Homo sapiens: one gene and its partners. The protein of the gene in region 2 interacts with the protein of the main gene of each other region in a biochemical or structural test. Each region holds a gene or a part of one and is shown on either strand. Other genes may lie near its edges.

Region 1 (3,500 bases), on a different chromosome or scaffold from region 2:
CCTTTACTTAGGATGTTTTCATTTTAAGGGAGACTCTAATTGCCAAAATAGAGAAATCAATCTGAAAAACACTAACAAAAAATCTTTTTCTTTTTTTTTCTATCATAGACAAGCTGGGTACAGCGTCATGTGTCTGTAGTCCCAGTTACTGGGAGGCTGAGACAGGAGGATGGCTTGTGCCCAGGAGCTTGAGGCTGCAGTGAGCTATGATCATGCCAACTTGGGTGACAGAGCAAGACCCCATCTTTAAAAAAAAAGAAAATATATACACATCTATACACACACATGCATATATAAATGTATCATAGACACTGAGAAACTACAGTTAGAATGCTACTGCCAGATTGCAGGATGTGTCCAGAGAGGGAGAAAAAAAAAATGTACTTATGTTTCCATAGCTCTATGGATTTGGGAACAAGCAGTGAGTAAAATCTTAAAAACAAAACAAACAAAAAAAGCACACCTAAATGATAAGGAAAAAAAAACTCTTCATAATAAATAAATATCTTTCATCTTTAGGTGAAACTGGATCTAAATGCACGGAAGGCAAGGTTTCCTGTTTTAAATCCATAATAAAATAATAAATATACATAATATAAATAATTAATTTTAAAAATCCTGTTTTATTATTTCTTAATAAAGCCAATTCTATAAAGCAATGTTTACCATGCCAGAACTTCTCATCTTATCTAGTTTCCTAGCTCACTGATAAGAAAGGCTTCTGGGATGGAACAAGGTCCCATGCACTGGCCTGGATTTAAAGGGACAGTGTTGGTTATTTTCCTAATGCTGCATCTTCTGAAACAAACAGCTTTCTTGTATACCCCAGCAAATCGCAGTGGAAGAATCTCCCTTTTCACGAAAAGCAGAGCAGAGCTGCTACACTATGCCGTGTGAAACCTGCATATAGGGGCCACCTGCACCCACTGAGGAGGACACATGGCTGTTGAATATAGCTTTGCATTCAACAGAGACCTCCATACACACATTGAATAGTAGCCTTTTATCGACAGGTATTCTTTCAACACAGGTGGGCTCAAAAACAGATTTTACTATACTGTGTATTTCTCATCTAAAATCTTTGCTATTATGCCTGGCACACCAGAAAATGCTCTGAAAAAAAGAGGTCAATGTGCCAACCTCCAAACTAGACTGGTATATCAGATAAGGAAAATTAAAGGAAGCACTAGGGACCAAGTTTCTCCAGGACGCTGCTGCTCTCTGCCTGCCCCATCATTAGAGGTGCAGACAAGCTCTGAGGTCTGCAACGTGCTGCCCAGCCACTGCACGAGTAGACCACTTCTCACCCACTATGCGCAAAGCGCCTTGAAGCACTATATAAATGCTAGTTGTTGTTATAAATGTATCCCACGAGTCAGGTGGCTCAGAAAATAGCAAATTCTTATTGTTTTATTTTAAAGAATCAATAATTTTCATACTTGGTCAAAAGTCAAAATGCTTCATAGCTTAGTTTTAGGATTCTTAGGTACGGTAAGAATCTAAACGGATTAGACAACAAATGATGATAGGAACACATTCTTCCTATCTCAAATGTCAAACAACAACCGCGGAAAGGAATGTACCCTGGGATGCCACTGGAGGTTCCATGTGCTTCTGTGACCCCGACACTGACCAACCACAGCATATCTTGGCTGGTCACATTTATAAAAAATAAAAGTGAAGCAGCCATTCTTGAACACTAATGGTTTGGCTTAATAGACTCTTGTATCCAATAAAAATTGAGTTTTAAATGCCACCCTTTTTAGCGAGAGTTAAAATAAATTTAAAAAGGTGTTAAGAAAGGCTTCTGGGATGGGGGGAAGCCCCAAGATTGGCCTGGGTTTTCTGATGAAAAATGCATGAAGTCTCAGCACATAGCGGAATGAGTGCTGGTAAACGACAACTTTTCTAAGCAAGAGGCTGGGTTATCCAATCTCATGGCTAGCCCACTGAGGAGCCTTGACAGGAATGGACACAACTGCTTTCTTTGTGTACCTTTTAAAGTGTAATATCCTAAGAAAAATTATCCTTTTCTTTTGTAATTTGATTTGATGTTGCTATTTTACTGAATTAAAGCTTTTTTTTTTATCCCAACGAGTAAATTTATCATGCTACACACTGATAAGGGCTGCAAGCATGATTATGATTTCCATAAAGCAACAAGAAAGCGCTCAGTACCTGGGAAGCCCAAGCCACATGACCCATGATGGGGACCAACTGGCATCATACTCATTTTCGCTGAAAGTACTCGGCTGCTCCTCCGCGTTCTGAGTCGCCTCCTCAACAATCTGGACCTCAAGTGCTTTAAGGGCAACAGCAGGGGACGCGGCACTGGCTTTCAGCATTGCAACTGCCTCACTGTGACTTAAATTGGTCAAATCAATGCCGTTGATATTTAGCAACACATCACCTGTTCAGATGAAGAAACAAGAAAAATGAGCTGAGCCACTGAGTTTTCACCTGCAAATCTTGTTGTTTATAAACTAAGCAACAAAAGTTAGTTCCCCCAACTCTGATGAGATAAGGTATAATAATAAATGGCATTTATTATTTCTTTGTAATTTTTATAATATTGAGAAGAAACCCAATACACAGAAAACATTCCATAATTTTAAAATAATGTCATAATACATAGAAAAAAGTGTGGCCTGAGGCACCTTGACATGATTGGAAGTTCGAATCATCAGTCTGAGTTTAGCTGTGTACAGGCCCTGGGCAGGTTCATTTCTCTTCTTAAGAGTTTCAGAGATTTCTACAATTCTGTCCAATCAAAAATCACTTGATCCTTTGCCCTTAGAAATAAATCTTTAATGTATTCTGCTTTATATTTACACAGTTCTATACATAAGGACAGCCCTGTATAGTTTATTCAGGGCAAACATCAGAATATGTACAAAGAAGCTATCCCTGGGCCCACATGAAGAAATGAAACTTGCGGTTTGAATGTCTTCCCTGTTTCAGGAAGAAAAGAACTGTTGCTCTGCTAAGTAATATAATAAAAAATGGCAATGAGGATTATATCAAAGGTTAGGAAAGGATTAGTTTTGTAGGAAGCAGACATTTGTGCTACAAAGTCTACAGAAATTTATCTCTCCCAATTTATCATCAGTTTTTCAGATTATTAAAGCAAATCATTCTCATTGTAGAAAATTTAGAAAACACAATAAAAGAACAAAAAGGAAATAAAATTACCCCAATACTACAACTGGACAAATAACCTTTACTTAATAGCAGCTTGAGAAATAATTCACATACTATTCAATTCACCCATTTAAAGAACATAATTTTATGGTTTTAATATATTCACAGTTGTGCAATCATCACTACAGTAATTTTGAGAACATTTTAATCACTCCCTCTATACCCATCATTTCCCTTCCCCAACCCTAAGCAACTACTAATCTACTTTCTGTCTCTACAGATTTGCCTCTTCTGAACATTTCATGTAAATGGAATCATACATGGTCTTTTATATCTAGCTTCTTTTACTTGCATAATAT
Region 2 (4,390 bases):
ACATACAGAAAGCCAGCAATTAACATTTCAGTGTTCTTTTTACCTTTGGAAAAAGCATCTTCCAGCTCTCTACTAGTGCGCTCATCGTACTGCCACCACCCATTTCTTCCTTCATAATACCATGCATATTCACCATTTCCTCTACTTGCTGCCTTGAGTTCTTCTGGTGACAACAAGGTTGGCTTGTCAAGGAAATCCTCGGGAATTTCTTGTCGACAAAGAGCACACCGCTTTCCAAGCCATGAAGCTCCTTTTACACATAGATAGCAGAAAACGTGCTTACAGGGCAGACTGACTGGATGAACACATGTTTGCAGACAAATGGCACATTCAGGGACGGTTAAAGAAGGTGCAGTATTAGAACAGGACTCGTTCGCTTTCCTGTTTGTAGGAAGCATGTTTATTGAATGATCAATTTCACCACAGCCAGCCATCCTAAGAAAAAATACATATAATATTAAAGTCATGTTTTAATTCTTGCAATATCTTAATTTAACAATTATGAAAACACTAACCACCTATGATGTGCATTATATGCAAGCCACATACTAGACAATGGGGATATGAAGATGAAAGTAGAGGAAAAACTCTCCAACCGATGAAAATTTTTTGTAAGCATCTACTTGTACATACCTTGGGAATGTATAAAAATTCCATCAGTGCACTTAACAGATCAGCCCTGGAGAAACACACTGAAGAACTATATAATGAAAAGCTGCATCCAGTGAGGGGAAAAGGATACCTTGAATCATGGCAGCTATTATACAGTGAAATGAATGCTAGACAAGAAATCTAAAAATCTGAGTTTTAGAGTCCTTTATTAATTATGTGCTCTTAGGCACTCAGTTAAACCATTAGTCTAAATTTCCTTACCTGCAAATCAGAGTTTACAAAGCTCAGGTAAAAATGGACAAAAAAAGTGCTTTGTAATCACTAAAGCTTCATAAAGGTAACAATCATATAAGACCAAAGGAGAAAATAACATGAATATTGAAGATCCCCTGAAGAGGAAGAAGAAAAAAGATTTGTCAAATTGGATGTATCTAGCTTAAACACTGACATAAAATTTATAATTTCTGCCTTATTGATTCAGATAAACATTTACTAAACACCTGCCATGTTCCAGATACAATACTAAGTACTGATGGGTCTAAAGATAAATAAGACACACAACTACTCTGTTAAATAAGGAAACATACATGCAGATAATTACAATATGGCCTGATTCCTGCGTAATCAAAATGTGTTAACATACTTACTAAAATAACAGTAAGAGAGAGATGAGAGGATGGACATAGGTTAGAAAGTTTAGTGTTCATTCAGAGGGGCTGGGCAGTGGAGCAGATTCCAGGCAGAAGCACATGCAAGACACTGAGTCAAATAGTCATACAAGCAATGGAAGAGCAGGAGATGAAGGTGTAAAGGTAATCAAAAGTTAAGTCATGAAAGCCTTATTGTGTTATTGTGCCCTGCCAAGGAAACATCTAATTTTTTTCCCCATGGTAAAAAAAAAAAAAAAAAGACATTTTAAAAGGGGAGAAAATAATGGAGTAAACCACTGATAAGTAAAAAAGACTGAGAAATAAAGATGAAGATGTCAGAGATTGAAAGCTTAAAATGAATGACAATCTCTCTGCCAGCTAATTCTGCCATTCTAAATGGGTCAGTAGTTACAAAAGATATAGTCAACAAGAATGCTTACGCTCATCAAAAATTGAAAAACAATAATCCTAGGCTATCATCACAGCACATTCAATCTTCAAACAATCCTTTTTTTTCTTTTTACTGCCTTTTCTGTGTTCTTGGTTCCTCAATAGACAAGGCTCAAAAAGATGGCAATTTTCTAGTAAAGGAAGCAACACAGTAAGTTTTTAAAAAGATGGCACATATCTAGTAAAGGAACCAACACAGTCTCAATGGAAGAACTGATCACTAAAATGTTTAATTTCCAAATTATTTTCAACTTTTAATAACATTTCCAATCAATTCCTTTACCAGAAATTCTAGGTTATAGACATCAAGAAAGTACAACTTTCTCCTAACCTATGGAAAGTTCTAAGTCAGGGGTGTCTAATCTTTTGGTTTCCCTGGGCCACACTGGAAGAAAAAGAATTGTCTTGGGCCACACATAAAATGCATTAACACTAATGATAGCTGATAAGCTAAAAAAAAAAATCACATAATGTTTTAAGAAAGCTTATGAATTTGTGTTAGGCCGCTTTCAAAGCCATCCTGGGCCACATGTGGCCCACAAGTTGGATAAGCTTGTTCTAAGTAAACCCTAATAGGACGTCTTAGTATGTTAAGCACTATAAAAGCTTTCAAATATTTTGAGATAAACACTTGCCTTCAAAGATCTTGTAACTTGAAACAACAATAAGTTACAAAAGAAGGCATATGTTTTTAAAATAGCCAATTACACATTCCCTGCCTATTTCCTCCCCTAAAAGAATTGGCTGTGCACACATTTTGTTAGGTTTTCAGAAACTTTCATCCCTTTCGATTTAGGTCAAAAAAGTTAGTTTCCATAAAATTCCTGAAAATCTTTTTGTTCCAAGTTCCATATTTATTTAAAGCTCCAATTAAGAAAAAGAAAACAAGAAAGTGATCCATTTACAAGTAATAATTTAAGAAAGATTCTACTCATGATTCTATTCATGAGACTAAATAGAAAAATGGGCTGATGACCACCATTACTTTGGAAAAACAACAGCAACATCTTCATATAAGAAGTCTACATCTTAAACCATCTAAGTACCTTATGAACAAAGGACAGGATCATAAACTGAAAACATAAATAAAAACAGAGTCTGGTAAAATGAAAACAAGACACCCAACATGTCACGTGGACCAATGCCATGCTTTTAAATACATAATTCCAAACCTATTGTATTTGCTTTAAGTAAAATGGGCCCAAGAAGTCAGTTTTCCATCACATACAGCTCGTTTATCTACAGAAAAAAAAGTTTCCAACCTAAAAACATTATCCTCCACCCTACTTAATATGATTAATATTTTGCATGACTCTTACTCTTGCATTTATGAATAAACCAAAACACATAATTTCAAAACTAAGAAAGCAATTACAATCATCCCAGGAGAAGGCATGAATTATAATAACATAATTGGAAAGGCAAAACAATCCTGTTTGTGCAGGTATTTTGGTTCCATCATCAGAATGAAGTGAAGTTGGACAAAGTTAATCTGCAAACAATGGACACCAGACAGCTAAATGGTCATTATTTCATCTGAAGCACTCTTAACTATCAATTTGCCATAGCAATTTATAAATTCTGATTCTGTTTAGCCCATCAAGTATACTGTTAGTCTATCACCAACTAACAAATGGGCAGAAAAACTTAGTGATATTTCTTATTTAATTCTGAATGAGGCACATGCAATAAGTAAGATAGAGATAAAATGTGTAACAAGATAGACACAAAGTAACCCCAAACTGCTAGTCTACCTATAAGACATACTTCAAGGCTTTTTAAAAAACCATTTTAATCTACCCTACACAGTCTCTGTTTTGCAGTTCCAATGATCTTAAAATAGGTGGGAGACTAAATGTATGCAGATGATCATACCAATATGTAAATAAGAAAGCTTTTCCCCTCCCTTTGTGTAGAGCAAGTATTAATGCTAATCAAAAGAGGTATTCCCTATCTCATAAATGTCTCAGAAAATTCTAATTTTGAAAAAGGGAATTTATTTCCAGTTTACTAAACTAAGAATTTAATACACAGAAATTTGGAGTGACGTTAGTCCAATTCTATTAATAAGTATAATACATCATTTACTTTCAAAGACGTTTTTACTGAATTCTTCATGTGATATTCCAACTTTTAAGTATAAATCCCCTTCTTCCAATAGATAAACCATGTGAAATATTTCTGCCAGACTAATAAGAGTCTATTAATACTAAGTCTTCTTCTCAAGAAGACAAAATATAGAGGGGTATGGGCAGAGTTAGTGGAAATCTCCAAGAACTCAGATTTCCTTGAAACTTCTTGGACAACTAGTCAAATGAAAGGCAAAATTATTATAAGCAAAAAAGATCTTTAGTATGTGTAGTATTCAAGAAATTTTTAGCTTGCAATAAAAACTCCAAATATTAAAAATCAGATTTTTAAAGTCTGAATTTAGAATCCAATTACAGACACACAAAAAGGGAACAATCCTACATATAATTTCAAGGGGCTTAAGGATTTCTATGAAGCTGGTCCACATATGAACCACTAATGAGACAAGAGGAGTTCACTGAAAGGTTTTACGTCAGGAAATAACAGCCAGTTTAGTAGCTTCCAGACCATTTGAACAGCAGGTTGGAGGAAAGTTTGGTAATGCAGGAGGAGGTATGGCGAAAGGGAAACTAGAATATCCAGGTAGT
Region 3 (3,500 bases), on a different chromosome or scaffold from region 2:
ATGAAAATGGAGATACAGAGGAGTGAATTGTTAAATAAAAACAGGTATACACAATGGTGCTTTACCAGATGATCTCATTCTTAACTCTTTGTATCCTTTTCTTTTTTTTCAGCATGTTGACATAGCGGCTTTATTGATAAAATACAACACGTGTGTAAATGCAACAGATAAGTGGGCGTTTACTCCCCTCCATGAAGCAGCCCAGAAAGGAAGGACGCAGCTGTGCGCCCTCCTCCTAGCGCATGGTGCAGACCCCACCATGAAGAACCAGGAAGGCCAGACGCCTCTGGATCTGGCAACAGTAAGTCCTCATTTCAGATACTGATTATTGTTCCTTCTACTTTCACAGATGACATCAGATTCTCGGGTTCACCAGCTTACTTTTAGTCGTGTTTATTTCACTTAGAACAGAGATCTTCTGAAAATTTTTGAAGTTCACACTTTTTCTATGAAAATATAATTTAAAACTCTTAAGACAAACTAAACAGTAAGTTAATTTAATTTTTTGCCATTCTTAGCCTGCTGGGAAAACATGGATCTTAAGAAAACATGTTTTTAGAGTGTACCCTCAAAGAATTATATTTAGTAAAATATCTTGTACCTTCTATATTTGGCATGTTATTGTAGAGCAACTAATGTTCATGATAATTTACCTAAGTCTGTGAGATAGTCAAAGAAAAATTAACTCTGGGCAGTATTATTTAACTGCAAAGTTAAGCACTGCATCATCTTCCGTGAACTTTCTGAAAACCAGGGAGTTACTGTATAGTCACAGTAATTTCTAATTTTTAAGCCAGAAATGTTTTTTCAAGTTATGTTCTGTTTCATTTATTGATTGCTGCGTAACAAACTGTTTCAAAACACCCAGTGGCTTAAAATAATAATGACTTATTATTTCTTATGATTCTGTATGTTGGCTAGGAGATTCTTCTGGTCTTACCTGGGGTCACTTGTGCAACTGCATATAGCTGGTGGCTGGGGCAGAAACATAAAGACGGCTTCATTCATATGCCTGGGGCCTTGACAGATACAACTAGAAGGCAGGGGCCTCTCTAGTCCCATGTGGCATCTCATCATTAAGTGGTCTTGTTAGAATTTCTTCACAGAATAATTGTATCTCAAGAGGGAGAAAGCAGAGGCTGTCATTGTTCTTTAAGGCTAAGCCTGGAACTGACATGCTGTCACTTCTGCCACATTCTGTTGTGCAAAGCAAGTCATGAAGTCAGCTCAGGTTCAAGGGATAGGAAAACAGATTCCACCTTCTTTGAAAGGAGAAGCAAAAATTTCGTGGCCATCTTTAATCAGCCACAGTCTTCCCTGTGAATACAAATTAAATCTATTTTTCCCACATTCAAATTACACTCACCTGCCACGTGCTCCCCCCACCAACAGGGGGCAGATAGTCATCACTGGGTCCTTAGCAATTCTAAAATTCAGCCAGACACATGTTATCAGGGCCATCTACTCTGGAGTTAGGGAATGATCCCTGATTAGGGCCCAGTTCTGCTCCCAGGGAGTGGTTCACTGTGGCTGTCTTTTTTTTTCCTTTTTTTTCTTTTCTTTTTTTTTTTTTTCCCCCTTAAGACACAGTCTGGCTATGTCACCCAAGCCAGAGTGCAGTGGCGTGATCATGGCTCACCACAACCCCAACCTCTTAGATTCAAGCCATCCTCGTATCTCAATCTCCTGAGTAGCTGGGACTACAGGCACATGCCACTATGCCTGGCTATTTTTTTTGTTTTTACTTTTTGTAGAGACAGGGTCTTGCTATGTTGCCCAGGTTAGTCTTGAACTTCTGGGCTCCTCCCTCAGCCTCCTTCCTCAGCCTCCCAAAGTGCTGGGATTACAGGTGTGAACCACTGTACATAGCCTCTGTAGCTCTTGGCCATGCCCTCTGAATTATCCTTCTCTTTTCATAAGAAATGGATCATATTTACAGCCAAGTGGCTTTCTCAACCTGTTCCCTGCTCCTAGAAATTTTCGGGACCCTGAGCCTTTTATCATTTTGATCTACCTGTCCCTTTTAGTCCAAACTAGTACAACTCTTCCTTTGTAAACTTTTGGATTTCCCATCAAATTACACACCACTCCATCAGCCAAAAGCTCCACCCACAAATCTTTTCAAGACAGGTCCCTCTCTAACATGGAATCCAAGTAAAGGTGCAGTGGGACAATGCCCATAAGATCCTTTGAAGCTCTTTCATCTAGCCAAGGGAATTCACAAGGTACCACCTTAGAGGTTTTTTAAAGATTTTGAGGTAATATATCTGTACCTCTAGTTGATTTTTATTCTGAGGCCATGTTTTCCTGTCAGCACGCTGGATTTGACCTTTGGCCTGAGGCTGTGCCTTACTTGAAGAAACTTTTGCTGATGGAGAGGCTGGGAATGGTGAATAATTTTGTTTTCTAAGCTAGCAAATGTTAGGTGAATACATTTCCTTAAAGAGAACTGGACAGTTCCTTTCTCTCTTCCTGTACCTTATCATGGGCAGATAAACACACCAGTCCAGTTGACAAGGCAGAATTTGTTCTGGAAATTTCCTTAGCCAAATTTACAAATTTATTTAGGTTTACGTTCTACCTTCCGTAAGACCTCCTGTGGCAGCGTTGCCAAACTTTCTGCTACACAGCATTAGTCCCCTTTCTCTCGCCTTCAGTAGCACTTGCCTATCTATCTTCCATTCACAGCCTCCCTCAGCAATAACCAGGCCACCCTTCACGCCTCCAACCAAAGCCACATGTCCACCAGCACCCCACTTCCAGGTACTGGTGTGCATTTCATTTCTCTATTGCTGCCCACTAAGCCACCCCCAAACCCACTGAGGGTTTAACGTGACAATTTATTATTTCTCACACGTCTGGGAGTTGACTGGGCTCAGCTGGGTGGTTCTGGTTTTGCAGTTACCTGCACCTGGGAACTCAGCAGAGGCTGGAGCTTCCAAGATGGCCTTTCATCCCGCAGGGCTCTCCCTGCATAGGATCTCACCACTCAGTAGTCTAGCCCAAACTTCTGTACAACATGGCAGATGGCTTCTAAGAGAGTAAAAGTAGACACTGCCAATCCACTTAAAGCCTGGCTCAAAAGCCTCAGAATGTCACTTCTTCTCCATTCTATTGGTCAAGACAACTCACAGGGCAAACCACATTCGGCGGGTAGGGGGCAGAAATTCAAGGGGAGGCATACATGACGGGAGGAAGGAATTGATGGGTGGCTGTCTTTGGAGACTATCTCCCGCATACTCGAAAAGCAGTTGCATCTAATACTTAAAAACTGAAAAGTTTATGAATAAATGAGCTAAATTAAAGTGTCATCCCTTTGAAATTTCACCAGATGTTAATTGTACATGAAATTATTAAGTGTGAAGTAAATAACCAGATTATAGCTGTTTAAACGTAAACAAAATATAGTAAACACAGAAATTTTTTCTAAAGAAGGGTGACAGTTAACACTGAAAGTGCTTTTTTTTAAATGAAAGAAGAAATATCTTTAAAAATTACAT
Region 4 (3,500 bases), on a different chromosome or scaffold from region 2:
TGTTGGAATTTAACACTGATGCCTTTCAATTGACATTATAATCCCTTACACAGCAGGTAACCTTGACCTTCTGTAGGAGCCCTCAAACATATGAAAGACATGGGGATCCCTGGAGAAGGTGCTTGTCAGAGCCCCCAGTTCAGTCAGTTCACTGTACCTGTAAATCCTTATAAGGACTTTCCTGATTTTGGTTCTCTTCTCTAACATGAGTCCCTACTCTACAGCTACATTCTGTGCATTCTCCAGGAATAAATAGAATTTTTTTTCCAATCCTGAAAACTCCAGAGTCCACATTTACAACCTAAGGACTCAACCACCCTTTTTGCTTTTAATATTACCATGTATTACATCCAATAGAGTTAGGTTGTAATATTGCCCAACATCAGTTAGTACTTCTACTTTGTGACTTCTATTTATATAGAGTGAATTAATTGCCAACTCTATTAATCTTGCAAAATCCATGAATCCTTAATGTTCAGTTTGCTTAGAATGAGGAACAGTGTATTTGTTTCTTCTTAGCTATGACTTCTTGCTGAGCTTCACATGAGCTCCTTTTAGATAACGTGCCTTCTATCTTGGACGATTTATTCACTTTCATGTTCCCTGGAATTTATTGCTAAACGTTGACGTGAATGCTTACAGTTTGGGCTCTAATGTAATCTCCTGAATGGCAATTAATAAATAAAAGATGGTTACTATTGCTGACAGAGAATCAGGGCTTTCTCAGATAGTTTTCATCTTCATGTTTTCACTAAACTTCATGTCAGACATCCCTAGGGGCTGATATTATAAAATATTTTCTGTAAACTCCAAAGCTTTTACTATTGCTTCTATACACCCAAACCTCTGTGATGCCTTTTGTTTTCTTGTCAGAAATCATCTTATTCAATTTCTGTTTCTTCAACTTATCTTCCTTCCTGGGAATATAAAAAATATGCCTCTTTCTGGATTTAATAGTGACATATCCTCAGTATTTATGACTTGCAAGTAACACCTGAAATTTGTCCCTGAAATTTTTTGTATTTTTTTTTTTGCTTAGTCTTATCTCTGTTGCATTTATTGAATATACTCTGTTGAATTTACTGAATACTGAATTGCACTTACCCTACATTAATAGCCAGTAGGGTTTATAAAATCTAGTGTTTATTGTCATCCTGTATATTGTTCAAAGTGCAAAGTTGTCTCCTATAAGTTAATGATGAAACTATAACGCAACATCCAATTTTTGCAGTTTGCCTACTTGACGAGGCTCCAGGGTTAATCTAGCCTAATATTCTTATTTTAGAAATGAGGACAATGTAGGGCAGTTTAAGTTGTTTGACCATAATCAAATAGAGGGTGCAGAGCAAATACATCTTTAGACAGTAAAGTACATGGTACACAGCAGAAAAGCTGGAACTAGGCTGCCTCGGCCCAGCTCCTGGTCTGGATGCTTATTAAGTGTTTAACTTTAGACAAGTTATGTCAATGCTGTGTGCCTCAATTTCTGAATCTGTAAAATGGGGCTAAAAGTAGTACCAGTAGCACAACTATAAGGATTATAGTAAGTTACTGTGGGTGAGGCATTTAGAATAGTGCTTAACACAGACTAAGCACTCCATGCATTATTAGCTATTACGATTATTCATTATGTTGACTATTTTTAACACGTTCGGATCATAGGTAAAGGTGTGTATTGCTATTTCACTTCACATAGGTATATATATACATCAGTGCTTTTTTGTACTTCTTTTGTATTCCTTAATGCTGTGTGCAGCTGCTAGTAGTAGTGTTCATAGTGGCAGTGATAATAGAAGCAAAAATAGTGATGATAGTAATAAAAGATAGTGCCGTTTATTGAGCCTTGCTAGGTGCTAGACATTGAAGTAGGTACTTTACATACATAATTCTTAATAGGTACTCTTGTCTATTGATAAATGACACAGTCGTTTTTTCCCAGAAATGCAAGTAGACTTCATGACAGTAGTCTCCTTCGTAACTGGAAAGGAACATGAGCTGTGGCCCTGGTGGAAAAGCTTTGACTGTAGAGACAAGAGCCCTGATAGAATTCCTTCTGTCTTAAAGATAATCCTGCTAATATTATATATTATATATATATATATAATATATATATATAATGCTGCTAATATTTATATAACCTAATCCTGTTATTGATAATTGAGAGACTAGCTGGGGGTGGGAATGGAGGTCAAGGAATGGAGTGGGAGGGGGCAGGTAGAGGGCAAGGCAAACCGCACAAATGAAAAACATTATATACCAGAAAAGCAATGATTCAAATTCAGTTGTGCTCTATATTTTCTGTTTTATAATTTTATATTGCATTAAAAGGTTGCCTCTTTTCTAGATACCAAATAGGAATACATTCAGAACTATAGCATCGACACAGAAAAGTTGTTTTCTTTCTTGCTTTGCTTGCTTGATTGATTGATTAAATAAATGGCAGTTACCATACATTAATAGCCAATAGGGTAAGGTAAAGTGTTTAATTAGAAAAATCACAGTCACTTCAATGTTCTTTTATTTCCATGCCCAGTATGTTCCTTACTAATCATATGAGCAACCATGGCAATGATAAAAGCTGTCAGGTGTGGGAGTGCTAGGACGATACTGGAAGAGAAGCTCTCGTCATGTTAGGTGCTTGGTATGTTTGTGTGTGTGTCTGTGAGTATGCATGTGTGTATGTGGGTATTCTCACATATGTGAAATCACTCTCATTCACATACATAGTCTCTATAAATAGCTACAGCCTTTCAAATTCATAGGTGTGTGTGTATATGCCTATAGACACACATGCATATACACTTCTGCATAGAGAGAAATGTACCTATAGTCATATTAAATTTTATCACAGCTTTAGAAAAGGAAACAGAGGCTCAGAGAAGTCAAACCACTTGTTCAAGGTTACAAAAGGTGGCAAAGCTGGAGTATAACCCCAACTCCCACCCACTTAACACCCCTTTTTTGGGATGTCCAGACAGAAATATTCTTAGAACAATAGCATTACACCACACTGCCCCATTAGAAGAGGGGTGACCTTTTGCCCTTTCTTTTCCAGAATCTCCAAGCAAAGATTTTGGTCCAACTCTGGGTTTGAAAAAGTCCAGCTCCTTGGAGAGTCTGCAGACTGCAGTGGCCGAGGTCAGGAAGAATGACCTTCCCTTTCACAGGCCCCGGCCGCACATGGTTCGAGGCCGAGGCTGCAATGAGAGCTTTAGAGCAGCCATTGACAAATCCTACGATGGACCTGAAGAAATAGAAGCTGGTAGGATGATATGCTTCCTTAAATGGCTTCTTCATCTCATTATTATCTGCAAATCATGGGCAAGAATGTGTGCTCAACTACAGAAAAAAATGATTTAAGGATCACAATTATATTTTTGATATTAAAAGTAATTCATTTTCCTGATATGTTTTGCCCTTTGGCTTAATGAACATGGAATTGGAGAACACAATATGCAATTTATTTTACAGTGCAAGGCTAAATAAATGTTCTCCTTCAC

What was found. Proteins that work in one complex are often made in the same cells at the same time.
Region 1: the proteins of RNF146 (region 2) and LNX2 interact in a test that uses a peptide from one of them, tested with the Homo sapiens proteins (one large-scale study listed by IntAct).
Region 3: the proteins of RNF146 (region 2) and TNKS form a complex in vitro, tested with the Homo sapiens proteins (3 studies listed by BioGRID and IntAct, with this or other methods).
Region 4: the proteins of RNF146 (region 2) and PARD3B interact in a test that uses a peptide from one of them, tested with the Homo sapiens proteins (one large-scale study listed by IntAct).

The regions. Positions count from the first base shown.
Region 1 is NC_000013.11:27,551,030-27,554,529, forward strand, and holds part of LNX2 (ligand of Numb protein X 2), read right to left. Parts: intron 2,411-3,500; coding exon 2,179-2,410; intron 1-2,178.
Region 2 is NC_000006.12:127,282,661-127,287,050, reverse strand, and holds part of RNF146 (E3 ubiquitin-protein ligase RNF146), read right to left. Parts: exon of another isoform or gene 1,703-4,390; intron 1,002-1,702; exon of another isoform or gene 874-1,001; intron 436-873; coding exon 1-435. UniProt on the Homo sapiens protein: E3 ubiquitin-protein ligase that specifically binds poly-ADP-ribosylated (PARsylated) proteins and mediates their ubiquitination and subsequent degradation. May regulate many important biological processes, such as cell survival and DNA damage response.
Region 3 is NC_000008.11:9,747,912-9,751,411, forward strand, and holds part of TNKS (poly [ADP-ribose] polymerase tankyrase-1), read left to right. Parts: intron 1-112; coding exon 113-301; intron 302-3,500.
Region 4 is NC_000002.12:205,297,475-205,300,974, forward strand, and holds part of PARD3B (partitioning defective 3 homolog B), read left to right. Parts: intron 1-3,055; coding exon 3,056-3,262; intron 3,263-3,500. UniProt on the Homo sapiens protein: Putative adapter protein involved in asymmetrical cell division and cell polarization processes. May play a role in the formation of epithelial tight junctions.